3 linked regions of the Homo sapiens genome follow. The main gene of each other region encodes a partner of the protein of the gene in region 2 in a complex. Each region holds a gene or a part of one and is shown on either strand. Other genes may lie near its edges.

What was found. The genes of interacting proteins can lie anywhere in the genome.
Region 1: MYBBP1A (region 2) and SMARCA5 share a complex: the UniProt entries of both Homo sapiens proteins name them as parts of the B-WICH complex.
Region 3: MYBBP1A (region 2) and DEK share a complex: the UniProt entries of both Homo sapiens proteins name them as parts of the B-WICH complex.

Annotation. Positions count from the first base shown.
Region 1 is NC_000004.12:143,551,702-143,558,658, reverse strand, and holds the end of SMARCA5 (SWI/SNF-related matrix-associated actin-dependent regulator of chromatin subfamily A member 5), read right to left. Parts: intron 5,541-6,957; coding exon 5,475-5,540; 3' UTR 1,173-5,474; downstream 1-1,172. UniProt on the Homo sapiens protein: ATPase that possesses intrinsic ATP-dependent nucleosome-remodeling activity.
Region 2 is NC_000017.11:4,545,257-4,553,601, reverse strand, and holds part of MYBBP1A (myb-binding protein 1A), read left to right. Parts: intron 1-975; coding exon 976-1,151; exon of another isoform or gene 1,152-1,162; intron 1,163-1,309; coding exon 1,310-1,477; intron 1,478-1,604; coding exon 1,605-1,722; intron 1,723-3,248; coding exon 3,249-3,544; intron 3,545-4,159; coding exon 4,160-4,270; intron 4,271-4,952; coding exon 4,953-5,078; intron 5,079-5,291; coding exon 5,292-5,459; intron 5,460-5,544; coding exon 5,545-5,644; intron 5,645-7,659; coding exon 7,660-7,756; intron 7,757-7,840; coding exon 7,841-7,992; intron 7,993-8,256; coding exon 8,257-8,343; intron 8,344-8,345. UniProt on the Homo sapiens protein: May activate or repress transcription via interactions with sequence specific DNA-binding proteins. Repression may be mediated at least in part by histone deacetylase activity (HDAC activity).
Region 3 is NC_000006.12:18,253,859-18,261,530, forward strand, and holds part of DEK (protein DEK), read right to left. Parts: intron 4,548-7,672; coding exon 4,446-4,547; intron 4,205-4,445; coding exon 4,095-4,204; intron 2,598-4,094; coding exon 2,503-2,597; intron 1,994-2,502; coding exon 1,873-1,993; intron 1-1,872. UniProt on the Homo sapiens protein: Involved in chromatin organization.

The DNA of each region.
Region 1 (6,957 bases), on a different chromosome or scaffold from region 2:
CTACAACTGGAAAGCATACTAAGAAAGCAAACCTATCCATCTACTGGGATTAAAGGGCATATAAAATGAAAAAAAAAAAAGTTACTCCTTGCAAAGCTAGGATGACCAGATGGCCCCTTGCCACCTCCCAGAAGGGAATCTGAAAGTCAGCTAATCACCAGCCTGTTTGTGAGGAAGAGCCAGTAAGAACTCCGCCTTTGCACAGCAAATCTGTATCATCTATTCTTCTTTTTCCCTCCACTCAGGATCCCTACACCCAGCCAGCATGGGCATCAAGGAAAGCAGGCTGGTAAACTTCAGGGCAGAGATCCGCTTCTGAAGGCAGCTAGTAATGTCTCACCCAGCTAAGCCTTGCTACTAGGCAACAGCACTGCCTCACTCAAGAAATTATCAATCTGCATCAGGCCAGATGCAGTGGCTCACACCTGTAATCTCAACATTTGGGAGGCGGAGGCAGGCAGATCATTTGAGGCCAGGAGTTCGAGACCAGCCTGGCCAATATGGTGAAACCCTGTCTCTACTAAAAATACAGTAATTAGCCAGGTGTGGTGCATGCCTGTAGTCCCAGCTATCCGGAAGGCTGAGCCAGGAGAATTGCTTGAACCTGGGTGGCAGAGGTTGCAGTGAGCCTAGATCGCACCACTGCACTCCAACCTGGGTGACAGAGCAAGACTCTGTCTCAAAAGTCACTAGTGTGCATGAGACACAGAAGCTTTGACAAAAATTCAAACAGCCATGGAGAAATACCGATGGTCTACAGAAGCAGTGCTTAGTCCTTGCTAGAATTCTCTAGTTTTGAAACATGGGAATAAGTAGAACTGCCAATGTGTCTGATGAGTAACTGTGGTATTTATTGCAACTGAGCTCTAGAAAGAGGCTACTGTTGTCTATGATCTGTCCTTTCCCCAACCACCCAGGCATCTCTTTGTCCACTCCAGTGATGTCTGCAGACCACCCTAATGTCACCTCAAGAGGGGTGAACCAACCTTCCACTGGCCAGCATAATAGCCTTGGAGTTTCATCTCAGATTTCATAGTGAATTCGGCTTTCAGGGCAGGATTTAGTTTGGGATGAAAAAGTGTTTCCATTAAGTATTGTATTTGAATCCTGGGTTCTTCAATGATTGAGGAAGACTAATAAAGAAAAGTTTACAAATAATCACATGAACTAAATTAGGACTTCAAAAGTTTAATGAAGTGAAATAATCTCTACTTATCTCTATTTCTTTTCCCAATTTATTCACAATCTATATACATAAAAACTCCTTTGGGTTGTCTACATCAAAAACAAGAATTTCTGTAGTAAGCAAACTATATGCATATTCTTTGTATTAATAAAATATTTTTGTCAATGTAGTGTTTACATTGTTTATATTACAAAGTTTCCAACATTAACTAAATTCTGATAAACTTTCTTCTTGTACTGGAGATACATGATATGCAACATTAAATATTGGTGTCCTAGAGATAAGAGCCACACACCTTGTATGCTGTAGAGTTAAAGGCAAGTACCTAGATCCTCAATCTTCTCATAGCCTCATTACCCCCCAAAAAAGCTGTCATTAGAGCTAGGGAATCTCTCCGGACACAAGGGAATCTGTGGTAACAAAGAATGTAGACCCATGTTGCCAGTCTTGAGTATCTCAGGTGAGGTGCCAGTCCACTTCTGAAACAATGCTTTGCCTCTTATGCCTGTGGAGAAACTATTCCACTTCTTCATTTTTTTCATTTAGAATCATATCATTTCAGTCTTTTTCTTCTTACTTCAATTTTGGTTCTTGTAGCATAGTCTTTTCTGGTAACTACTGTAAAGTTAATGCTGCAAAAGCCTATTTAATCATTCTAATAAAAACCTTAACAGATCCAAAACGATTCTGGGATGTACACAGCGAAGTTAATTCTGCAGCACTGCTCCACACCAAGAATGTATTTTGCCCATTATCTGTCATCTGAGGGATGCCCTCACCTTTGATCTTGACATCAGATTCCAACAGGCAAAGATACATTTTGGTAACAGCTATGTACATATACAAAATATGTATATATTTTGGTAACAGCTACTCCGTTAATACATGTCTTCTAGCATTCCATTCATTTGGATTTATGAGTTCATCAATCCACCTTGTGTCATTAATCTACTTTGTTTAAATTACCCTCCTTAGTACCCATTTTTTTAGCAATGTTCTACTCCAAAACTACTGGTTTGAAATATAGTAGCACATCCTTTCAAAAAGATTTGTTTTTTAGATTCAAAGGGATAGAACAAGATGAAATTTATTTTTTACTCAGAATTTTTCTGAAAAACCACAGGGGTGTTTTACAATGCTTTTTAAGATCGAGATTAAGAAAGGTACTAAGCCAAAGATCATTTATATAATCATTTATATAATTAAATCCAGATTAGTTCAAACAATCGGCATATATTAAATACTCAAAGGGCAGATGGAGCAATCCTTATCTGAAATGCCTGGAACCAGAAGTGTTTTTAGCATTTTCCAGACTTTAGAATACTTGCATTATACTTATCAGTTCAGCATCCCTAATCCAAAAATCAGAAATGCCCTAATGAGCATTCAAATTATGGAGCATTTCTGATTTTAGATTTTTTGATTAGGGATGCTCAACTTGTACTCTATGCTTAGGATTTGCTTCTCTCAACTTTATGAAAAACAAAATGTAGGCCAGGTGTGGTGTAGGCTCACAACTATGATCCCAGCACTTTGGAATGTAGGCTTACACATGTAATCCCAGCACTTTGAGAGGTTGACGCAAGAGGATTGCCTGAAGTCGGCGTTTGAGACCGGACTGGGCAACATAGCAAGGCCCTATCTCTACAAAAACTAAAAAAACTTAGCTGGGCGTGGTATCTGTAGTCCTAGCTACTTGGGAAGCTGAGGTGGGAGGATCACTTGAGCCCTGAAGTTTGAGGTTGCAGTGAGCTGTGATTGCACCACTGCACTCCAGCCTGGGTGACAGAGCAAGACCCTGTCTCTTAAAAGTAGTAATAATTACACTTTATAATAGCCTCCAGCACTTTGTCAGATGTACAATTAAGCAATCTTTCATGCTTTGTTGTTAAAAAAAAAAAAAGACATTTATTCAGTATCATGATCAGATTATTAAAACATTTAGCAATCAACAGCATGGGTACAAAACAAAACAATCTACACTGAAACCCTGTGTTGGAATGCTTTACTTTCCACAGAACAGAAACTATTATACAATTAGTCACAAATACAGTCATCAAGTTCTGTGATCGTGGTGGCTTTGGTGGCAGCCATGGTGGTGGTGATGGATATGGTGGCAGTGGGGATTGCTATAATAGATTTGGTAATGATTGAAGCAATTTTGGAGGTGGTAAAAGCTACAATGATTTTGGCAATGACAACAATCAGTCTTCAAATTTTGGACCCATGAAGGGAGGAAACTTTGGAGGCAGAAGCTCTGGGCCCTATGGTGGTAGAGGCCAATACTTTGCCAAACCACGATACCAAGGTGGCTAAGGCAGTTCCAGTAGCAGTAGTGGTTAAGGCAGTTCCAGTAGCAGTAGTAGCTGTGGCACTGACAGAAGATTTTAATTACTGCCAGGAAACAAAAGCTTAGCGGGAGAGGAAAGCCAGAGAAGTGACAGGGAAGTGACAGGTTAAAACAGATTTGTGAACTTGGCCAAACACAGTGGTGGCAGGGCCTAGCTGGTTCATGCTTTTTTTTCAAGTGAGTTTCCCTTCACACAGTTTCCATTTGAGTCCCTAAGCTCTCAGGGCTACCACTATACTTGATTCATTTTGCATTTCCACTGTGTATCTCCCTCCCAGTTTCTCCTCCTCTTGAAAACATCACTTTTGTGACCTCCGTAAGTTTTCTTCAGCCTTACATTTTTTCAATTTCTTCCAAACTGAGGTGATAACTCTTACAAATTCTTTTTCCTTTCATAAGTAACCATTCCTCATGCATGTATTAGACCTTTAACTGTTAAGAATCTAACATAGTATTTAAAAAGTTAATTTTGAGGTAGCACTAAATTCAAATTACTTTACAATTTGCCATAAATACTGCGTTTTGCTTGACATTAACAGCAGCAATTCCACATTTCAAGAAATTAAGCAGTATTAGTAATACTGCAGGTATCAAAATTTTTTTTTTAAATCTTCAATTACATGTGGGCAGATGAAAACAACTACTAATAGAAATTTAAGGGAAAGATATCCAATTAAGGGAAATGTGTCCTAAAGGAAAAAGTGAATAAAAATTGAGAAAACAATTAAAGAAATGGAAAGAAAAGACCACTTTACGGATTATAAAAGTTATATTTATTCACGATGCTACATTTATTGCATTCCCTTAGAAAAATGGAGAACTGTTTATGTACCCAATCTGCACATATAAAATTTTATACAAATTATGTGTAGCACATAAAGGCCTCTGGTACAGCTAAAATCCTGACACTATAATTTGGGTATTCCTGCTTTAGGGTCTCCAGTTTATCAGGTCTGTCCATAGAAAACAGAAACTGGAATTATAGTCAGTCTTGCTAACACTTAGAAACTACTTTAAAATACAATAAAATTTTCATTTACCCTAAAAGTCCAAATGGGAGGGGATATATTTTGTTACCAATTTCAATGTAACAGTATGACAAATTCACACCTCATTTTGGCTGGGCTTTCAAAATTAAAAAAAAAAAATCACCTTAGTTCTGACATTATCTAAGTTGTGGCTGCTTCAGAAGGTCATATGACAAAATATTTACCAAATAATTAAAAATAATAATAATAATATTCCTTTTACAAAATGGTACAGTAATACCTTAAGGAACCGGAAAATACTAAATGTCTTTGGCTATACAACTAAAAGGCCATTCTTTCAAAAGAATAGGGCATATTCATTTCAGAATCAACTAAAAAAAACAGAAAGCATAACAGAAATATGCATAGAATTTAAGTATACTTTGTCTTGCCTTCTTTTCCCATTCTACCCACATAAGCAAGGAGAATGCAATTTATATAATCTTTCCAGATGAGACTCAATAGCACTACAAAGAAAATACCCAAATTTCTGCAAAGGCAAAGTGAATTAAAATAATTACACAACTAGGTGAAGACTGAAAGGGACAAATGTTATTTGCAATTTTCTTTTTAACTTGTTTTTAAGCCTTACAAGTGTAGAAATTATAGCTAATAAACAAAAAGTCACAATCTTCACAAATGGAACTACAATAGAAAAATAAATCAAATGAAACACTTAGTAATAAATGAAGCCTATTTTATTACTTCAAGTGTTAATGATAAAAAAATTTCAGCACAGCTGTTGCATTTAAAAAAGTGAAACTACATACTATGTTTCTAGCTCAGTAAACAGATGAACCTGATGTCTTTAAATGACATAACAATTGAGCATTGTACAGTACATCTTATGAAGACCCGTAAATTAAAGAACTACTGGTTTAAAGTTAGTGATTATGAAACAAAAACATATTCATAGTTTCAGCTTCTTTTTTCTTCCTCGACCATCAGGTGCGCCATCCATTTTACGTTTCTGTGTCTACAAACAGACAGAAGGATTACTTTTCACAAGACTAATATAAACATGAAATATAGTTGCAGACACATTATAACACTTTAGTAATAACAACTACTACAAAGTAATAGGTATGAGACTTTTCCCCCAGGCTATATAAATCTTTCAAAGCAAACTATAAAGCCTCCAAATAATCTTACCTACTTATTTTACTTACAGAATAAAAAATGTTAATGTTAATAATGACGTTATAAAACTAATGCACAATTAACAGTAGTAGATCAATATCAAATAAATGCAAGCTTCCCAAAATAGTAAGAAACACTTGAGTTTTTAAAAGGCAGTTACATAAGTACCAAATATTATCCAGAGATACTCATTTATTCATGACTTTATAAATTAACCATTTTTTATTAAATTAACTATTATTAAATAACATTTTTTCCCTTTAAGTGTTTGCCTTCACATTGCTAAAACATCACTGAAATAATCAAAGCTTAGAGACTAACAGTAAAAGTCATAATACCACTGCTTTTCCAATGTTTCTTAAATTATTCTAAAATTATAACTTGTATTCTCAATGAGATGTGTACACACTTGACATTTACGAGACATACTTTCCTGATTTTCACGAAGCCCCATATTAAGGACTACCATATCATCAAGAAGTGATTTTTCCCACACAACCCAGTCAAGCTAAATTTGTACTTTTTAAGTATTTCAAGGAAGTCCTAGCTACAGCAATCAGACGAGAGAAAGAAAGAAAGGACATCTAAATCGGAAACAAAGAAGTCAAATTGCCCTATTTGTAAATGACATAATCTTACATTTGGAAAAACCTAAAGACTCCATCAAAAAACTATTAGAACTCATAAACAAATTCAGTGACACTGCAGGATACAAAATCAACATACAACAAACAGTAGCATTTCTATGCCAACAGTGAAGAATGTGAAAAATAAAAAGTAATCCCATTTACAGTAATTACACGTGAAATAAAATACCCAGGAATTAATCAAAGAAGCGAAAGATCTCTAAGATAAACTATAAAACACTGATGTAAGAAACTGAAGACACAAAAAAATAGATATTCCATGTTCATGGATTAGCAAATTCAATATTGTTAAAATGTCCATACTACCCAAAGCAATCCACAGATTCAATGCAATCCTTATCAAAATACCCATGACATTCTTCACTGAAATAGAAAAAAAAATACTAAAATTTATATGGACCCACAGAACACCCAGAAATAGCCAAAGCCACCCTAAGCAAAAAGAATAAAACTGGAAGAATCACATTACCTGACTTAACTTATAGTACCGAGCTATAGTAACCAAAACAGCATGGTGCTGGTATAGAAACAGATACATAGATCAGTGCAACAGTGGAAAAGAACAGAGAACCCAGAGATAAGTCCGTAAAGTCCATACATCTACAT
Region 2 (8,345 bases):
AATATTATTTCAGTGTGCATTGGTATAAAAAAGTGTTGAGATATCTTACACTCTTTTTGTCAGGTGTCTCCAAAATCCAGTGTGTATGTTACACTTAGGCACACCCCTGTTCAGATTAGCCACCTTTCAGGCGCTCAGCAGCCCTGTGTGGCTGTGGCTACCGTATTGGGCAGTGCAGCTCTGGAACTGTGCCTGGCACGTGGCAAGTATATAAAACGTTTGCCATTGTTATCCTGGTCAAGGCTGGCCCCTTGTGGGCCTCCACTGCCCTACTTGGGAAGGTAGCACCCTAGGCCCTTTTGTCACCGAAGAGAAAGGCAGGGGTAGCAGGTCTCCAGGCCAGGGCTTACTGTGCAGTCTTGACCTCAGAGCCAGAAGGACCTGAATTCGAATCCCAGCTCTCCACCTAGGGCTCCTCGTGTATGAAATGAGCTAGTACTCTGAAATACCAAAAAAAGGAATAATTAAAAGGGTAGCTTTGACCGGGCATGGTGGCTCACGCCTGTAATCCCAGAACTTTGGGAGGCCGAGGTGGGCAGATCACTTGAGGTCAGGAGTTCAAGACCAGCCTGGCCAACATGGTGAAACCCCATCTCTACTAAAAATACAAAAATTAGCTGGGTGTGATGGCGCACACCTTTAATCCCACCTGAGGCAGGAGAATTGCTTCAACCTGGGAGGCGGAGGTTGCAGTGAGCCAAGATCACACCACTATACTCAGCCTGGGTGGCAAAGTGAGACTCTGTCTTAAAAAAAAAAAATAAGGGGTGGGGGGCAGGTACCTCCAGGGGCCAGTTAGCGTCAGTGGGATGCTTGTCAAAAACCCCGCTGCCTGGGAATTTGAGTTTTGTTAGCAACTGGCCTCTGATGACTCTGATACCTCACCAGGTGGCCCCGTGTCAGGAGCAGGTAGAACAGGATCCACCAGGCTCACCCCGCAGAGGAAGTCACGATTTCTTCTCCCTCCATCCTTAGGTCTCGAAGGCCACATTGCAGGAGATCCTGCCGGAGGTCCTCAAAGCCGACTTGAATATAATACTCAGCTCCCCTGAACAGCTAGAGCTCTTCCTCCTGGCCCAGCAGAAGGTGCCCTCCAAGCTCAAGAAGCTGGTGGGATCCGTGAACCTATTCTCAGATGAGAATGTCCCCAGGTGTGATGGAGGTGGGCGGATTTGCCCTCCCTGGGGCCAAGGGACTGCATCTGGCCAGGCCCAGATTTGTCGTTTGGCCTGGGGGTGTCCCGGCTGCTCTTGTCACCCTGGCCCTTGCCTGTGAGGCAAGTGTTCCCTGAGTCCCTTGCCCTCCGCAGGCTGGTGAATGTGCTGAAGATGGCCGCCTCCTCTGTGAAGAAGGACCGCAAGCTGCCCGCCATTGCTCTGGACCTGCTCCGCCTGGCACTCAAGGAAGACAAGTTCCCACGGTTCTGGAAGGAGGTGGTGGAACAAGGGCTGCTGAAGATGCAGTTCTGGCCAGCCAGGTGCGGGCGACGCGTGTCCTCTCTCGGCCCCCTTCCCTGTCCGTGAAGTGGGCTAGGCCACTAGTCCTGAGGTTCCCACCAGGGGCACCAAGGGCTCTGACCAGGCTCTGTCCTGCACCCCCTTTAGCTACCTGTGTTTCCGCCTGCTGGGCGCGGCCCTGCCCCTGCTGACCAAGGAGCAGCTGCACCTGGTGATGCAGGGAGACGTGATCCGCCATTACGGGGAGCACGTGTGCACTGCTAAGGTGGGTAATGCCCGTGCAGCTCGACACTGCCAGAAAGGCTAGACGTGGAGCTCTCCCTGCCAAAAAGGGGAGCAGGGCACCTCGGGGGCTTGGCTAGAGCTATGGGTGTCCCCTCCGTCTGGGTAGTGAGCTGCCTGAACCCCTTTCCCTCGGACAAATTTTTTTTTTTTGAGATGAAGTTTTGCTCTTGTCGCCCAGGCTGGAGCGCAGTGGTGAGATCTTGGCTCACTGCAACCTCCGCCTCCCAGGTTCAAGCGATTCTCCTGCCTCAGCCTCCTGAGTAGCTGGGATTACAGGCGCCCAATACCACGCCCAGCTAATTTTTGTATTTTTGGTAGAGACGGGATTTTGCCATGTTGGCCAGGCTGGTCTCGAACTCCTGACCTTAGGTGATCCACCCGCCTTGGCCTCCCAGAGTGCTGGGATTACAGACGTGAGCCACTGTACCTGGCTTCCCTCTGACAGTTTTGATAAAGTCAGGCCCTTCTGCCAGCAGGCCCCCTTGTGGGCATGGATAGCCAGCGGGCTGTTCAGACCTCTCTCCGCCCCCGCCCATGTGGCAGTGATGAGAACAGTCGTCATGACCATGTTTGGGCACCAGTGAGCCTGGTGCCCAGTAAGTGCTGCTGGGTTGACTGTTCTCACCAGCTCATTTTATCTTTGCAGTGAGTTTCAGAGAGCTGTCATTCTGGGTGAGGGGGAGACTTGAAGTATCAGGCAGTGGTTAAGAGCTTGGGTTGGATGGTGGTGCACACCTGTAGTCCCAGTTACTCGGGAGGCTGAGGTGGGAGGATCCCTTGAACCCAGAATTTTGAGGCTGCAGTGAGCCATGATCATGGCACTACATGCCAGGGGCACAAGTCTAAAAAATTGAAAGGAAAACAGCTTGGGCTGTGAAGCCGGACACTATCCCACTGGGAGCCTCTGACCCTGAGAAGTTACCTCTAGGTGTTTTTGTGTCTCACTGTACTCACCTGTGCAATGACAATATTGGCCAACCGCAAAGAGTTGCTAAAAATGCTAAGCTGCCGCCCAAAAAGGCGGAGCGCGGGTGCTGGCACTGAGTAAGCGCGTGAGAGGTGGTTGTTTTTGGTCCCGAAGATGACACGGCTAGGAATTGGCAGCGTGGGCTTTGAACCCAGGTCAGTCTCGCCTCCTAACTACCACTCTGCCCTGCGTTGAGCCAGGAAAACAGGCCATCCCCATCCAGCAAGGCGGAAAGAGGGGCCTTCTGGGGCCGGAGGTGCTGAAGCTGGGGCAGTCAGACCCACAGAGGCCTTGACGCCAGACAAAAGCACTGGGGTGACTGGACTGTTGCAAGTTCAGGCACAGCCTAGCTGTGTACAACAGGAGATTGCCGGGGCTCGATTTAACCTGTAGTGGGCACAAGCCTGGTGGGCTGTTGCCCGCCTGCCCCCGGGCTGTTGGGCTGTTGGGCTGTTGCCCGCCTGCCCCCTTGGCTGTTGGGTTGTTAACCGCCTGCCCCCCTGGGCTGGTGGGCTCAGCGCCATGCCTAACTCTTGCAGCTCCCAAAGCAGTTCAAGTTTGCCCCAGAGATGGACGATTACGTGGGCACCTTCCTAGAGGGGTGCCAGGATGACCCTGAGCGGCAGCTGGCCGTGCTAGTGGCCTTCTCATCTGTCACCAACCAAGGCCTCCCTGTCACGCCTACTTTCTGGCGGGTCGTGCGGTTCCTGAGCCCTCCGGCCCTGCAGGGCTATGTGGCCTGGCTGCGGGCCATGTTTCTCCAGCCAGACCTGGACTCCTTGGTTGACTTCAGCACCAACAACCAGAAGAAAGCCCAGGATTCATCGCTCCACATGTGAGTGGACCTTGGGGGAGGACACCTAATTTAGGAGTTAACTTCCTAGGCCTGCAGAGCCCCGCGACCCAAGCCCGCCCTCCACAGCGTCCTGGCTCTAAACCATGAGAGGAGCGAGGGGGAAGAGCCTTAGCTCTCATATGAGGCCTCAGTTTACTTGTGTGTCCCCACACTGGCGATCGGGATGGGGAGATCTTGGAGTGTTGTCTCTGAGATCAGGCAAAGGAATGTCCTGTTTTTGCTGGTTCTTTTTTTTTTTTTTTTTTTTTTTTGACAGAGTCTCACTCTCTGTGGCCTAAGCTGGAGTGCAGTGGCGTGTGATCTCAGCTCATTGCAACTTCTGCCTCCCGGGTTCAAGCAATCAAGTGATTCTCTGCCTCAGCCTCTCCAGTAGCTGGGACTACAGGCACCCGCCACCACACCCAGCTAATTTTTGTATTTTTAATGGAGATGGGGTTTCACCGTGTTGGTCAGGCTGGTCTCGAACTCCTGACCTCGAGTGATTGGCCAGCCTTGGCCTCCCAAAGTGCTGGGATTACAGGTGTGAGCCACTGGGCCCAGCCTGTTTCTGCCAGTTATAAGTGGCTCACATGACCTCGCCTCCTGCCCCGCTAGGCCTGAGCGAGCTGTGTTCCGGCTGAGGAAATGGATCATCTTTCGATTGGTGAGCATTGTGGACAGCCTGCACCTGGAGATGGAGGAGGCCTTGACTGAGCAGGTGGCCAGGTGCGAGCTGTGCTGGATTCCCAGCTTCCCATGGGCGTGTGGCCAAGGAATGGGGCCCCTTAACTCGTCCTAGTTTGCATCCCCTGGAGCCAGAAGCCTTTGGGTTGAGTCATCAGTGGGGGGCAGGCACAAGGGGACTTGGGAATTCCTCAGGAACCCGTGAAGGGAAGGGGCCCAGGAGGCACCCCAGCTGCAGGGGCCTAAAAGGTTCAGGTGTGCTCTGCGCGCCCTGCAGGCAGCTTTTGCACGTGGGAGGTGTCAGGGAAGCCTTCTGCCCCACACCTGCCTCGTCTGTGCCAGTGCAGAGCTGGGTGCTCACGTCACCCTCAACATGCACGGTTGCAAGAGGGGGCTGTCCCATGTTCGCAGGAGCAGTGACCTGACTTGGCCATGACCACACAGCCTCCCATCTGTTGGTTCCTTGAGAGGGGCACTGACTCTCTCTAGCTCGGGTTAACCCGCGTTCAGCTGGGGATCCAGAGCAGAGAAACGGCCCCTTCCCATCCTAGCCCAGCCCAGCCCCCTCCAGCCTTGCCCGTCAGGCCCCCGAGGACTGTACCCAGGGCAGAAGGGCGGCTCCTCCTCCTCCTGGCCTTGTACCCTCGGTGGTACCATCCAAGGAGGGGAGCCTGTAAAAACCAATGGCAGTGAATGGCTATGGCCACTCTCCCACCCTCCCCAGGTTTTGTTTGTTCCACTCGTTCTTTGTCACAAAGAAGCCCACATCCCAGATCCCTGAGACAAAGCACCCGTTCTCCTTCCCTTTGGAAAACCAGGCCCGAGAGGCTGTCAGCAGTGCCTTCTTCAGGTGAGTCTTGGGCAGCCCAGGAGAGGTCCGAAGGTGGGAAGGCCTTGAGGGCGCCTGCTCCCTCCAGGTCCCCTAAGCTGGGAACAACGGCAGAGGCCCCCGGAGTTCTAGTAGGTCCTGGAGAGGCGGGAGACCGAGCCCTGGGGAGGGCGGAGGGAGGCGGCTACATTGACTCATCTGGTCTGCTGACCCCAAGCCCCATCCCTTGCCCAGTCTGTTGCAGACCCTCAGCACGCAGTTCAAGCAGGCACCGGGCCAGACCCAGGGTGGGCAGCCCTGGACCTACCACCTGGTGCAGTTCGCAGACCTCCTGTTGAATCACAGCCACAACGTGACCACCGTGACACCCTTCACTGCGCAGCAGCGCCAGGCCTGGGACCGGTGAGCACGTGGGATTTCCAGGGGGTGGGCAGGACGCTGCAGTCTGACTGGTGCAGGGGCCTGGGAATCGCCTGTCTCCCCGCAGGATGCTGCAGACTCTGAAGGAGCTGGAGGCCCACTCCGCAGAGGCCAGGGCTGCTGCCTTCCAGCACCTTCTGCTCCTCGTGGGCATCCACCTCCTCAAGGTACTGGGGCCTGGGAGGGAGGGGCTGTGAGCCTGGGGTTCTATGGCACAATGGGCCCCCTACCGAGAGGCTTTTGAGGGCTGTGCGGGTTTCCAGGAAAGGTTCTGGGGGAGTTAAGTTGGGAGGTTTTTGAAGCCAACTTTGTCACAGGTGGAAACATCCCTCCGGCCACTTAGCGGCACCAGCTGGTGTCCTAGGCTTTCCATGCAGGATCTCGTAATCCCCACAGCTTTGAGGCAGACACCCCCTCTCCATGTTTGACATGGAGAAACTAAGACTCAGAGGCAAAGGAGCTTGCACTGTACCCCCTGCTGTGGGAACACCTTCTGGCAACGGGCTCTCCCGCTCGGTTCTTCCCATCAAGAAGCCCTGACCACATTCGAGGCTCAGTACCCTGATTTCTTTTGAGTTTTCTTCTCATGACATAAGCTGCTCTTATTGGGGCTGCTTTAGGTCTTCTGTAGCCTGAGTAGGTGGGTCTCTTGCTTGCTCCCGTCTGGCCACTTGACTGTGGTTGCCTTACTTGCCAGCTTTGGTTATTCTGAGCCCAGCATGTGGATGAGCTGTTTGGGGAAAGGTTGGCCACGATGCCCCTTCCAATTCTTGACGTCAGGCCTTTGATAGCAGCAGAGTCCTGGTGATTCCAGGACACATGTGGAGCCTGCCCCCAGCCTTGGGATCTCCGAACTTGACTTGGACAGAGGAGGCTGCAGTTTGCTGTGTCAGAGCCTTAGATAAAAGGTGCAGCCCTGGCCAGGCTCGGGGCTCGCACCTGTAATCCCAGTACTTCCGGAGACCAAGGCAGGTGATCACGAGGTCAGGAGTTCAAGACCAGCCTGGCCAACAGAGTGAAACCCCTTCTCTACTAAAATACAAAAATTAGCCAGGTGTGGTGGCAGGTGCCTGTAATCCCAGCTACTCAGGAGGGTGAAGCAGGAGAATTGCTTAAACCTGGGAGGCGGAGGTTGCAGTGAGTTGAGATGACACCACTGTACTCCAGCCTGGGCAACAGAACAAGATTCTGTCTTAGAAAAAAAAAAAAAAAGGTGCAGCCCAGAGGAGGACGGGGACCTGCTTGGGCACACAGCCTGGGAGCCGGAGAGCAATGACAAGGGCTTTGGGCTGCTTTGTCCCACCCTGGCCTAAACGTTCAAGCTGCCGACTGCATTATGAGGGGAAAGTCTGCTTTTTAGGTACCAAAGATCACACAGTTTTCAAGAGCTCCTGCACACGCACATGCGCACACCACGCCACCTCACTCGAGTCTGGGGTTATCCCCAGTCAGATGAGTTCAATGTAATTAAATTAGTTAAAACTAATGACTTTCAATTCTGTCTCTCATGCCAAGCCAAGCATGGAGGGAATAATCTAGAATTATGAATTGGGGGCTGGGGCTTGCTGGCTTCTCTGGGACCCTGACCATCCTTGTCAGGTTCTGCCTTTCTTGAGTGTCCAAGGGGGAGTTGGACTCCTTGTCCCCTTCAGGCTTTTGGATCCTGTAACTGCGTATTAGGTGTGAAAAAGCCGTCAGCTAGCTGGGCGCGGGGGCTCACACCTGCAATCCCAGCACTTTGGGAGGCCAAGGGGGGCAAGGGGGTGGATCACGAGGTCAGGAGTTCAAGACCAGCCTGGCCAACATGGTGAAACCCCGTCTCTACTCAAAATACAAAAATTAGCCGGGCATGGTGGTACACGCCTGCAATCCCAGCTACTTGGGAGGCTGAGGCAGGAGAATGGCTTGAACCTGGGAGGCAGAAGTTGTGGTGAGCCGAGATCAGACCACTGTACTCCAGCCTGGGCAATAGAGCGAGACTCCATCTCAAAAGCCCTCAGCTCTTGGGGTGTCCAGCTGGGGTCTTCTGTTCTGGATTGTGGGGGTGACTGGCCAGGGCGGGCCAGTGGCTGGGTGTTGGAGGCTTCTTGATGCCACTGCTGCCATTTGGCCAGCCCCTTGCCTGGTTTAGAAGGGCTGGGGACAGGGCCTGGCCCCAGTGTGTGTCCTACCCTGCCCGCAGTCCCCTGCAGAGAGCTGTGACCTGCTGGGTGACATCCAGACCTGCATCAGGAAAAGTCTGGGAGAGAAGCCCCGCCGGAGCCGCACCAAGACCATCGGTGGGTCCTTGGTCACGAGAGGGACTAGAGTGGTGGGGTGGGGCCAGCGGTCCCCTATCCGGGCTCAACCCCTCCCTCTTGCAGACCCCCAGGAACCCCCGTGGGTAGAGGTGCTGGTGGAGATCTTGCTGGCCCTGTTGGCCCAGCCCAGCCACCTCATGCGCCAGGTGGCCCGGAGCGTGTTTGGCCACATCTGCTCCCACCTGACCCCGCGTGCCCTGCAGCTAATTCTGGATGTGAGTTGGGACCTTTGGGAGTGGAATGTGGGCTGGGGCTCACTGAGCAGCGAGCTGCACCAGGGGTGCCGCTTCAGCCTCCAGCCTCCCTGCCGGGAGCCTGCGGCCGGTGGGAGGGGTCTCAACGAGGCCTTGGCCTGGCCTGGCCGCCTCTCCTAGGCTCCGTTTTCTTCTGGGAAATGGAGGTCTTTGGTCAAGGCTGAGTGGGGCCTGGAGAGGAGGGCGGGGGCTGCAAATGGGTCAGTGGCTGGCACCCCTCCCCAGGTGCTGAACCCCGAGACCAGTGAGGATGAGAATGACCGTGTGGTGGTGACGGACGATTCTGATGAGCGGCGGCTGAAGGGTGCAGAGGT
Region 3 (7,672 bases), on a different chromosome or scaffold from region 2:
CGTGCCTCAGCGCCTGGCTAATTTCTTCTTGAGACAGTCTCACTCTGTCACCCAGGCTGGTCTTGAACTCCTGAGCTCAAGTGATCCACCTGCCTCGGCCTCCCAAAGGGCAGGGATTACAGGCATAAGCTACTGCATCAGGCCCTTCATAGATTTTAAACAAAACAATACATTGCAAAAGACTGAATGCGGCCAGGCACGGTAGCTCACGCCTGTAATCCCAGCACTCTGGGAGGCCGAGGCGGTCAGATCACCTGAGGTCAGGAGTTCGAGACCAGCCTGGCCAACATGGCAAAACCCCGTCTCTATTAAAAAGACAAAAATTAGCCAGGTATGGTGGCACACGCCTATAATCCCAGCTACTGTAGAGACTGAGGCAGAAGAATTGCTTGAACCTGGGAGACAGTGGTTGCAGTGAGCAGAGATTGTGCCACTGCACTCTAGCCTGGGCAACAGAGTGAGAATCTGTCTCAAAACAACAGTAACAACAACAGTAACAACAACAACAACACAAAAAGACTGAATGCAGAAGCAAATGGTAATCAAGCTGTTTTCTCTTAAGCCAGACATTAAACAGATGTACAAAAACATAAAATGCCACTCTTTCATTCTTTTGAAAAGTTATTTTTCCTAGAAAATATTATTTTTAACATTTTAAAATAAAAATTTTTCAGTTCTAATGTCAAATACAGTGAAGATCAAAATAACTCATATTAAAAAAAGCTCTTGGGGTCCTCACTAATTTTTTAAGAGGGCAACAGTATCCTGAAACCAATAAATTGGAAAACCACTGAGAAAAAGATAAATATAAAAATATCTGTCATAACAACCTAGTAAATTGCTTCTGAGGAAATAGTGATCACCTTGCCTCACACTAAATCCTTAAAAAGTACAAGTATAGCTATAGTAAAAGTTAGAAAATAAGAAGTATTTTGTCTTTAAACAAGCCAATTTAAAACACCAAAAATCATCATACCCCTTGCGTTTGTAGTTGTATAACAAAAGTTTACACTTTAACTGCTGTTTATCTGTCCTCGTGCAGCTAATGGTAATAAGGACCAAGGGCGGACGAAAACGAAGTCCTAGAGCTATTTTCTGGTTTTGATTAATGCCATCTCCCATCAGAGATGGCATTCCCCTGAACTCCTAGGCCTGCTAGATCTCTCACACTTCCTTTCCTGTCAAGATGGGGAAGAATATAAAAACATTTGCTGACAGACCTAAATCACACTAAAAAGGCAAGGTCATGTAACACTTCAACAGACATTTTAAGTCACCTATGTCATTCGTTACCATTAAATAATTAGGGCAAACCTACTAGCTTTTAGGAAGAGTGAGAAAACTGTAAGGCCATTTTACTTCCCTGTCTGGCTCCTGGGCTCTGCTGCAGATTCTGGAAACCCAATATAGGAAACTTGTAAGAGTTAGCTTTTAAATGTCACTTTTTAATACTTTATTCCAGGATCTAGGAAAACATCCAGTTCTAATATACTCCCTATTTTGTCTTCACTTGATTACAGGTTGCACCCCTTCCCTCCAGCCTTGCACCTCATCCTCAGCCCAACCTCTTCCTATTCTTCCAGTGTCTTCTAGATACCTAACCCTGACTACTAGTACTTTCTGTCCCTTCTGACATTAATTCACTATTCTTAACCTTATATCCCTTGTATCTGATTTTCCGAAGCAACATACCCCTATGGCATCTATATTATTTCTATCAGGAAATTACTGCAGATACGTCAACAGAAGGTATAGTCTTTGAATGTAGATATGAACGAATACTGACAGCAATGCTGTTATTAATCAATTTTTGTTTCATATAAAGAGGCTATGAATAACTGATTTATGAAAAAAATAAAAATTGATCCTCACTTTGCCAGAAGGCTTTGGATGCATTAAGAAATTCAAGATCCTCTTCACTAGTTCACTATTTACACCTGATCTCTCCAAATCAAGAACCTCACAGATGCTCTTTAACATGGCATTTCTAAATCTGAAACAGAAAATGGAAGAAACCAAGGTGTTAATATAGGAAAGCTTACATATGTTCTCCACAATATAAAGGGAAAGCCAACCAAATTGGCTCAGTTACATACATTTAAAAAAGTGGCCAATGCTTCTATGAATCTTTTTTCTTTTTTTTTTTTTGAGACAGTTTCGCTCTTGTTGCCCAGGCTGGAGTGCAATGGCCCAATCTTGGCTCACCGCAACCTCCACCTCCCAGGTTCAAGCGATTCTCCTGCCTCAGCCTCCCAAGTAGCTGGGATTACAGGCATGCGCCACCACAGCCGGCTAATTTTGTATCTTTAGTGGAGACGGGGTTTCTCCATGTTGGTCAGGCTGGTCTCAAACTCCTGACCTCAGGTGATACGCCCGCCTCAGCCTCCCAAAGTGCTGGGATTACAGGTGTGAGCCACTGTGCCTGGCCCGAATGTGATTTAACATTAAAAAATAAACTTAAAGCATATTGATCAAAATACAGTATTTATAAAAATAACTTACTTTTTCAACATTTCTTCCTTCTTTTTATATTGGACACTTCCTTTTTCAAATGGAAAGCCACTGAACTGACCCACATTCTTCTTTAATGAGGACACCTGAAAATGTTCCTTATTATTAATGGTATTTATTACCCAGTAATGTACACAAGAATAAATTCAAAGCCAATTCAAAGTCAACATCTTTATTTTCATACCTGTCTGTAAGTTACAATACTGGCTGAACAGTCAACCAATTCAATATGGGTTCAATATTCAACATTTCTTATTCAAAACTGAAAAATGTATTTGTCATTAACATATTAACATTATAAAAATCCTACAAACTTAAGTCTCTGAAAAGAACAATTTGAACAAATTTTCACTGGGGAGTTTTTACCACAACCAAAAGTTACCTGACAGTACCAGGGGATGTGGAAAGTTACTATTTAAAAATATATCCTTTTCATAAGTAATAAAGTTACTAGTAATTCTTCTTTTCCAAATCAAGAAGGACTTTATTCTTTCAAAGTAAAGAATAGCGAGTACCACAAAAAGCTAATACCGTTCACTAGTTATGGGACTTGTGTAAATTAAATTGGTTTAAGGATTAAATGAGATTAACAGACTCACTGAAAATAAATTATGTCATGCACCAGACATTCTATTCTACTTCAGACATTCTAACACCCAACTTTACTTTGCCCACGTACAACCTAAAGCAGTTCCCTCGATTATATAATATACTAAGTCATATGTACAGTATAATAACAATCCTTTAGCAAAGAACTATCATCCAATTTATCAGGTATTTGCTAAAAATGAGATACAATTACACCAAATTCACTTTGTATGAGATTTGTATGAGATACAAATGATTTTGCCTCTTATTTGTATGAGATACAAATGAGATCATATGTATGATCTCATACAAATCATACCGACATTCACTTATTCTGAATGTCGAGAAAATCCAAAAACATGAATTTCTTTCAATACATTTAAAGGTCACTAAAACCTTTCATCACAATTTGGATTTCGTAATTTGAAATTTCAGTTTGGAATAAAAACTACTACAGGAGAAAGAGCCCTAGAGCTGGGCATACTGGCTCACACCTGTAATCCCAACACTTTGGGAGGCCAAGGTGGGAGGACCACTTGAGCTCAGGAGTTCAAGACCAGCCTGGGCACATGGCAAAACCCTGCCTCTACAAAAAGTAAAACAATTAGCCAGACACAGTATGGTGGCATGCACCTGTGGTCCCAGCTACTTGGGAGGCTTAAGCGGGAGGAACACTTGAGCCCAGGAGGTTGAGGCTGCAGTGAGCCATGTATTGCACACTGTACTCCAGCCTGGGTGACAAAGTGAGACCGTGTCTTAAAAGAAAGAAAAAAAAAAGAAAAAGAAAAAGAAAAAAGAAGACAGAGCCCTGGATATTATAATCCAAGTGCTAATATCCAGCTGTGTTTCCTGTGATAAATCATTTAATAAGTATATACCTCAGTCTGCTCAGTCATAAAGTGTGGAAATTGAACTAGTGGATCACTAACATTTACAGAAATTGATTCCATTGTGAAGTAATATACAAGTAGGTTTAAAGTGTAAAAAGGTCTTACAGTGCCTGGCCTGTTGTAAAGCAGTTTGTGTAGATTTCTAAGTTCATCGGTTTTCTTCTTACTTAGAAAAAAATGTATCCTCTCAATTTCACAAAGTTTCTGCCCCTTTCCTGGGGAAAAAAAAAAATCACAATTAAATACCTATGGCTTACTAATACATTTACAAAGTTAATTTAATGAGAATTATTTTCACAGCATAATTTACATGTAACTCTGCTCTTACAGAGCAAATTAAATAAAATTATACCAAAAGTATAAAACACTACCTTGCTGATACTAAGCTACAAACCATCATTTTCACAAATTTAGGCACTTTCACCACAAAATGAAAGGAAGCTAGAATAAACTTACCTTGTGCAATTGTAAATGGCTCTCTCTGTAAGGAAGAGACTTGCATTGTCAACCTCTCTACTTTTTTCTTTTCCCTCTTGCCTTCCACGATGAGACTCTTTTCTAGAAATTAATTTAGTATTTCTTAATTAACAAAAAGCTTAAACATTGTATTAACTTTATTAGATACACATGTAGAACAAAGTCCCCAAAACCTAATACTTTATTCTTCTTCTGAGCATGGTTTTGGAAAGCAAATGACATAAAAGAGGAAAACACTTGATTAATTAATAGAGCACCATGAAAATTTTTTCAGAGTAACATTTTACTCACCTGGCACTCACAGGGACTCAGTTAAAAAAAAAAATTAGAAAGCAAACTAATTTTTATCCAACTAAAATTATTGCCATTACAGTCCAGTCACTTCGTTTGTGAAAAAAATCTAGCTCTGTTTAATCTTTGGACATAATTCTATTTAATAATTGAGATTCAGTTTGCTGTACTTCAGGAATAATCAAATTTAGACTGGGAGATTAAGAACTTCAAAAGATATATAGAGAACAATAACAATTTAGTAAACTGACAAAAGAAACACAAATAAAGACTTCCAGGCAGAACAGCCTGAAGTACGTGGATAGGATAAAACTCTCCAAGTTTACATTTAATGCAATCAACTGGGAGAGCATTACTTTGTAGTTTATGAATAACATTCCTAATGATGACCATAAGTCACTCAAAGTTAAATTGTTTAGTCACAAAAATCTACGGTGAGGCGCGGTGGCTCATGCCTGTAATCCCAGCACTTTGGGAGGCTGAGGCGGGCGGATAACGAGGTCAGGAGATCAAGACCATCCCGGCTAACTCGGTCAGGAGATCGAGACCATCCTGGCTAACTCAGTCAGGAGATCAAGACCATCCTGGCTAACGTGGTGAAACCCCATCTCTACTAAAAAATACAAAAAATTAGCCAGGTGTGGTGGCTGGTGCCTGTAGTCCCAGCTACTTGGGAGGCTGAGGCAGGAGAAAGGCATGAACCCAGGAGGCGGAGCTTGCAGTGAGCCGAGATCGCACCACTGCACCTCAGCCTGGGCGACACAGCAAGACTCCGTCTCAAAAAAAAAAAAAAAAAAAAAAAAAAAAAAAAAAAAAAATCTAGAAAACAGGTAGCATATACTTCAAAATTCAAAACATTAAGCTCCATTTATCTAAAATAAAATCATTTTTTGAATGAAATAAAGTCAGATAAAAGAATACTATATACTGCTCGAGGTTCTGCCATTTATTTAATGCCTGTGTTGTGCAGCTGCACTCAATACTAAGAGGGGATAAATGGATGATAAAAACTGCGTATCTTTTGAAAAAGATGCTACTAAAGAAATGAGACATAAATATACGCCAATATAAAAGATAACAAAACATCTTAAGAAAGATACACAAATAAATTGCTGTGCACTGAGGAGGAATTGATTATTTTGGGACTAGAGAAAAAGGAACAAAGCACGTGTGCTGGCTTTTAAAGACAGCTTAGATTTAGTAATGTAAGGATTCGCACAGAAAGAATACTTCAGGAGAAAGGGCTATCAACAGGTATATTCTGGCCATGTTGTACAGAATGAAGACCAAACACACTAAAACAACCCCTACTATCACTCAACTTCATCAACTTAGTGATTTAAACTATTTGCTTGTCTCTGATTACTAACTACAAGCTAATGACTTCCCAGTCAATCTCCAAGCCACAACTTTCATCTGAGATTCATATTAACTAATATTGCCTCAGTATCTGTGAGGGATTGGTTCCAGGACGCCCCTCAGATGCCAAAATCCATGGATGCTCAAGTCCCTTATTTTTTAAAAAAATGGTGTAGTAGTTACATGTAACCTATGACCATCTTCCCATATACTTTATATCATCTGTAGATTACTCATAATGACTAATACAACTTAACTGATATGTAAATAGTTGTTATACTGTATTGTTTAGGAATAATAAAAAAATCTGTACATGTTCAGTACAGATGCAACCATCCATTTTTACCAATTTGTGGTTGATTGAATCCACAGATGAGGAACCCACAGATATGGAGAGCCAACAGTATATGCCTGTCTGTCATCTGGACAGCTACAATTCATGTCCTACAGGCACCTAAACTCAAAATATTCAAAAGAAAAATCATAATCATCTCCAAACTTGCTCACTTTGTGAATTTTTTTCAAAAAACATTAATACCATCCACCCACCTGCCAAAGACAGAAACCTAAGAGTCATCTTTTACTAGTCATTTCTCTCACTTCCCTTTTCCCCAAAATCACTGCCAATTTTGGCTAATCTGACCCCTTTCTTAGGACAGACTTCAGAGGATATATGAGAAAGCCTGGGTGCCTGGGCAGAAGCCTCCTGCAGGGGTGGAACTCTCACAGAAAACTGCTACTCAGGGCCAGGCGTGGTGGCTCATTCCTGTAATCCAGGCCCTTTGGGAGGCAGAGACGGGCAGGTCACTTGAGCTAAGGAGTCTGAGACCAGCCTGGGCAACATGGTAAAACCCTGCCTCTACAAAAAATACAGAAAGTACCCGGGCATGGTGGCGCATGCCTGTGGTTCCTGAGGTGAGAGGATTGCTTGAGCCTGGGAGGCAGAGTTTGCAGTGAGCTGAGATCATGTTACTGCACTCCAGCCTGGGTGACAAGTGAGACCTTGTCTCCAAAAAAAAAAAAAAAAAAGAAAGAAAACCTCTACTAGGGCAGTGTGGAGTGGAAAGGGGAAATGGGGGGTGGACCCCTAGATTCACCACCAAGGCTCTATTGGCTAGTGGAGCTGTGGGAAGGGGGCTGCCACCTCCAAACTCCAGCATGGTAGAGCCACAAGCAGCTTGCATCCTGAGCTGCCCAAAGCCTTGGGACCCCTCACCCCTTGCACCAGCGTGCTCTGGATGCCAGACATGCAGTAAAAGGAGATAATTTTGGAGCTTTAAGATTTAAAGACTGCCCTGCTAGGATTCAGACTTGTAGGCCGGGCGCAGTGGCTTACGTCTGTAATCCTAAAACTCTGGGAGGCTGAGACGGGCGGATCACCTGAGGTCGGGAGTTTGAGACCAGCCTGACCAACATGGAGAAACCTTGTCTCTATTAAAAATACAAAATCAGCCAGCTGTGGTGGCATATGCCTGTAATCCCAGCTACTCGAGAGGCTGAGGCAGTAGAATCCCTTGAACCAGGAGGCAGAGGTTGCGGTTAGCCGAGGTCAGGCC